2 separate regions of the Homo sapiens genome follow, and region 1 is linked to region 2. A link means that fine-mapping ties the variant in region 2 to the expression of a gene that starts in the linked region. Tissue or cell type: whole blood. Region 2 holds a variant in brackets; the other region holds the start of a gene. All regions are shown on one strand. Distances are from middle to middle.

Evidence for each region. PIP is the estimated chance that this variant, and not a neighbour inherited with it, causes the effect.
Region 1: CBX7 starts here. The variant in region 2 is fine-mapped to the expression of CBX7 in whole blood (INTERVAL, PIP above 0.99).

Annotation. Positions count from the first base shown.
Region 1 is chr22:39,151,345-39,153,962 of GRCh38, reverse strand. CBX7 (chromobox 7) reads left to right here and starts at 1,283. Exons shown (of 6, transcript NM_175709.5): 1 at 1,283-1,587. The coding sequence starts at 1,519. RefSeq lists silencers at 977-1,546, 1,617-1,666 and an enhancer at 1,124-1,705.
Region 2 is chr22:39,130,552-39,133,305 of GRCh38, reverse strand. It overlaps CBX7 (chromobox 7), which reads left to right. Exons shown (of 6, transcript NM_175709.5): 6 at 1-2,534. Among named protein-coding and RNA genes, the nearest start is that of CBX7, 21 kb to the left of the region's middle. RefSeq lists an enhancer at 1,319-1,880. The variant T/G (reference allele first, on the strand shown) is at 1,427.

The sequences.
Region 1 (2,618 bases), 21 kb before region 2:
TATGATTTCACCTACGTTCTGGATACATGTGCCTCATACTGGGTACATAATTCTTGAAATACATTTTCACTGAATATATAATTCTAAGATGATGGTTATTTTCTCTCTGGCTTTGTTGCTCTTGATGAAAAGTCAGGTGTGAATCTATTATTCTCTTTTTCTATGTGCCAGAAAGAGGTGTTGGATTTTATTGTGAGGGAAATAGGGAGGAAAATTTTTAAGCACAGGGTGACCCCGTCAGATCTGCATTTTAGAAGCACACTCTGGCACTGTGTGGCTGAGATCGGAGGGAGGGCAGCTCCGCGAGGTCTCTGCTGTGGTCCAGAGAAAAGACGGGGCGAACCTGGGAGGTGGGTGCGGTGAGGGCAGGCAGACCCGAGTCCCCGAGGGGATGCCGGAGCGACAGAAGTTGGGGTCAGTACAGGAAGGAGCAGGGACGACGCCGGGCTCCCAGTGAGGAATGGAGGCGCGTTAGCGAAAAAGGAAGGGGGGTGGGGAATCAAGAGTTCGTCTCGTGCCACAAATGGTTGAGCCCCCACTAAGCACCTAGCGCCCAGTACACGCGGGTTTGGGGAAGGCTGGGGCAGCGCGGCGGCAAAATCCGTCCCCGGGGGACCTCAGCTCCACCGCGGCCGCTCCTGCCGCGAACGAGGGCCCGGCCCGGGAGCCCTCGAGGCAGCGCCCGCGTCTGACCCGTGCGTCTGGGCACCGACCACCGAGGGTCGGGTGGATGGACAAATGGAAGGGCGGATGGAGGGGTGGGTGGACGGACGTGGAGACACTGGCCAAACTGCGCCGCGGAGAAGGCCGGATTAGGGAGACCTCGGCCCTGCGACGTCCGGACACGGTGGGAAGCCTTTTGGGTCCCGGCTCTCCTGCAACTCGAGGGGCTGCGCCTCGGGCCCAGTCTCCTCCGCTGCGGGAGGTGAGCAAATGGCCTCCCCGCTCTGAGCCTTGACTTTGTCGTCGGCTCCACTGGGCCCTGCCACTTCGGCCCCTGGCAGTCACCGGGAGGCTATGAGGCGCCCGCCTGGGTATTAAGGATCACGTCCCGCCCCGGCGTCACAGCAAGACGGGGCGCGCGAGCCTCCGCCCCGCCCCAGCCGGTGACCGAGCCAAATAAGTCCCACGGCAGCGCTCGCGGCTCGCGGCCCGCGGCCCAATCGCAACCCGCGGGGGCGGGCCCCGGGGGCGGGGTTCCGATGGGGGCGGGGCTCGGGGGCGGAGCTGACCCTCAGGGCGCGAGCCGAGCCCGCGGCCGTTCCGCGCGCTCCCGCCCCGCCCCCTCCTTGCGCGCGCTCGCTCGCTGGCGCCGAGGAAAACGTTGCGCAGGTTCAAAAATGGAACGTCGGCGGCGTGAGGGAGCGCGAGGGGGTGTGCGCGCGTGCGCGTGCGCGTGCGCGCCCGGACGAGGGTGACGGGGACCCCGCCAGCCCCAGCATCGCGCGCCGCAGCCGCGGCCCCGCAGCTCCGCCCCCGGCCCGGCCCGGCCCCGGGCCCGCTCGCCCGCCGCCCCGCATGGAGCTGTCAGCCATCGGCGAGCAGGTGTTCGCCGTGGAGAGCATCCGGAAGAAGCGCGTGCGGAAGGTGAGGCTGCCCGGGGGCGGCTCCCAGGACCCCAGTGGGGTCCCTCCCGTCCCCAGCACCGCTCCCTCCACGCTGGGGCTGAAGGGGAAAGCGGGGCGCGGGGGCCCCGGCAGCCCTGCGCTGCTGGGCCCGTCTCCCCAGCCCGTGCCTCAGTTTCCCTGCCACCGTGTAGGGCGAGTAGAACAAAAGTTGTCGCTCCAGGATGCTAGTGGCGGCCGAGCCTGCCTGAGCTGGAGATTAGGATCGGACGTAGGGATCCTCAGCGCCATCCCACCTCGCTCCCCTTTTATTGTAAATATGGGGAGACTGAGGCCCAAGTTGAAAGGACTTGCCTAGCGCGTTATGGTCAGAGCTGGGTTTTGAACTCGGGACTCTGGACGCTTGGCACCAAATCCTTTCAAGTTGTAAGTGGAGCTTTGGAAAAGTCTCCTCCGGCCTCTGAAGTTTTTCCTGCTGGACTTTGGCCTTTTCCGATCCTGCCCCCTCTACGCCACCCGAGCACATCCCTATTCCCCGCCCCCACCCCCACCTCAACTCCTAGCCCAGGCCAGGGCTCTGAAGCCCGCCCCCTGCGCTGGGGCATCCCCTAGTCTCCTACCCCATCTGCCTTCTTCAAAACATACACCCTGCAATTTAAGGAGGTGTCTGTTCTGCTGGTTTCAGAACCCCACACTTTGGGGCTAGACTTTGTCCGGGCCTGGCGTCTACACCTCCCGTGCACTTGTTTGGCGAGGGGGCTCGCCTAAGGCTGGGGAAATCCTTGGGGAGAAGTTCCTTTCCTGGTACGCACTACTGTCCTTCCTTTGTCTCCTCCTCCCTGCAGCCCTTTGGGAGGCTCCAGGCCGACTGGGAGGGGCCTTAGGGGGTCACCTCCTCCCATTTAACAGAGACAAAAACTGAGGCCCAGGCAGAGGAAGTGACCTGCTCAAGGTCACCGAGCAAGTTAGATAGGGAGGTAGAGCAGGAGCTCAACTGGGCTGATTGGCAGCCCATCTTCTTTCTCCATAGAGAAAACTCAGTCCTGGCATCTC
Region 2 (2,754 bases):
TTCTGCTGAGAGCTCTGCCCTCCCCTCATCACCTGGCCTGTGCAGAAACGCTCATGCACACCTGGCTGCACAGGTGTGCACGCATTACCCTTCGCGTGTACGTTCCCATGTGCCCCGTGAAAGCATGTGTGGCTGCAGACGTGTCCACATGGGCCTTGCGAACCTGGGTTAGAAACCCTGGCCAGGCGAACGTGGGGTGATTCACAGCACAAAAGACCTCACCACCACACCTGCACTCACCCCACCTTGCATGCACCTTGCTACCTGCTTGCGGCTTTCAGTGGAGGGCAGGGGTCTGGCACAGGTGCGATGGCACCCCATGCTCCAGGCATACAGATGTGGTTTCTCGGCTGCACCGGGCCAGGCTGCGGGTGTGCAGGCGTCTGCTAAGTTGTGTGATGTATCAGCACAGGCTTTGAGACGTCTGGACCCTGTCCTTCCTCCCGTGAGGGGTTCTTGTTCTTTCTGACTCAGGTGACTTTTCAGCCCTTCCAATTCCCCTCTTTTTCTGCCCTCCCCTCCAACTCAGCCAACCCAGGTGTGGGCAGTCAGGGAGGGAGGGAGTGTCCCACCACGTTCTCAGGGCAGCCCTTGACTCCTAAGCCCCTTCCTCCTTCCATTCTGCATCCCCTCCCCATCCAACCTAAATGCCACAGCTGGGGCTGAGCTGTATTCCTGTGGAGGGACCTCTGCCGTGCCTCTCTGAGGTCAGGCTGTGCTGTGTGATGGGCAGGCTTTGCCCCAGCCCACCCCTGGCAAGGTGCACTTGTTTTCTGGTTTGTACAAGGTGTCCTGGGGGCCCGTGGCTTCCCTGCCAGTGAGGAGTGACTTCTCCCTCTCTTCCAGTCCTGTAGGGGAGACAAAACCAGATTGGGGGGCCCAAGGGGAGCATGGAAAAGGCCGGCTCCCCTGTCTTTCCTTGGCTGTCAGAGTCAGGGTAACACACACCAAGAGTGGAGTGCGGCCAGCAAGTTTGAGACCTGCCCGCCCTCCTCGCAGCTCTGCTCTGTGTCCTCAGGAAGTCACAGAGTCTACTGAGGCAAGGAGAGGGTGATTCTTTCCCCAAATCCCTTCTTCCCTGGTTCCCAAACCAAAGACAGCCTGCAGCCCTTTCTGCATGGGGTGCTCTGTTGACAGGCTTCCCAGATCCCTGAGTCTCTCTTTCCTTCCTCCTCGATCTTTAGTTGTCCACGGTCAATTCAGTGCTTCCATTGGGGGACAGTCCCCTCCGGGATGACCTGATTCACCTCCAGCCCAGGGAATGGAATCTAGAGGAATACGTGGGGTGGGTCTGGACAAGGAGCGGCAGGAATCACCACCCATCTCCAGCTGTGGAGCCCTGTGGAGGGGAAGGGGAAGCTTGGGGTTCAGAGGGGACTCTTCCAGGAGAGGGGTGCCCAGCGGAGGTAAAGATGATAGAGGGTTG[T/G]GGGGGGTCTCTAGTTGAATGTTTTGGCCCATGACTTTGGAACATGGCTGGCAGCTTCCAGCAGAAGTCACGCTCCCCATCCCCCAGGGGACATAGGACCTTTTTCCTGCTTCCTGGTCACTTTCAAAGAACTATTTGCGCAATCTGTGGGTCTGTGGATTCACGGGGCTTTCTGTGTGGGTGCTGCAGTTGCTTTTGTCTGCAGCAGCAGGACACATCTTTCCTCTTACTCAGCCCTTTATGGCCCATGGGGAACTCCGTGGCTCAGGGAGAGCTGAACTCCAGGGGTGTGACCTGGGACGGGTGGGCCTGAGGTGCCCAGCTCAGGGCAGCCAGGTGGCTCATGGGCTGTAGTGAGCCAGCTCCCTGGGGGAAAAGGCTGTGGGCCGTTAGGACCATCCTCCAGGACAGGTGACCTCTATGAGGTCACCTACGGCTGTGGCCGTGCAGGCCTCCTTCCAGCCCAGAGTGGCCCAGTAGAGCAAGGCAGACAGTGACCTCCACCCCCGCAGCCCTCTTAAAAGGCCAGTACTCTTGGGGGTGGGGGGAGGGTTTAGAAAGCATTTGCCCATCTGCCTTTCTTTCCCCCAGCCCCCACCCGCTTTGAATGTAGAGACCCGTGGGCACTTTTCCTTTTGTGGTGGGGGGTGCGGAGGAGGTACCCCCACCCCTGGCACAGCCGCCTGGAATGCAGGACTGTCACTGCTGTTCGGGTGATGACCTCGTTGCCAAGCTCCTCCTGTCCCCTTGTTCTGGGGGCAGGCGCTGTGCTTCTGTGAGGTGGTTTAGCTTTTGCTTTCGAAGTGGCCAGCTGCGGCCACCAGGTCTCAGCACAAGAGCGCTTCCTTTGCACAGAATGAGCTTCGAGCTTTGTTCAGACTAAATGAATGTATCTGGGAGGGGTCGGGGGCACGAGTTGATTCCAAGCACATGCCTTTGCTGAGTGTGTGTGTGCTGGGAGAGTCAGAGTGGATGTAGAGCGCGGTTTTATTTTTGTACTGACATTGGTAAGAGACTGTATAGCATCTATTTATTTAGATGATTTATCTGGTAAATGAGGCAAAAAAATTATTAAAAATACATTAAAGATGATTTAAAAAAAAGAAAATTCCTGGGCATTTGATTATTCCTTCTGGTGGTTGTCAAGTGCATCCGTCCACCAACAGACTTTGTGCGAGCAACAAGGCTGTTTATTTCACTTGGGTGCAAGTGGGCTGAGTCCAAAAAGAGTCAGCCAAGGGAGATAGGGGTGGGGCAGTTTTATAGGACTGGGGTAAGCAGTGGAAAGTTACAGTGAAAGGTGGTTAGCTATTGTCAGCAGGGGAGGG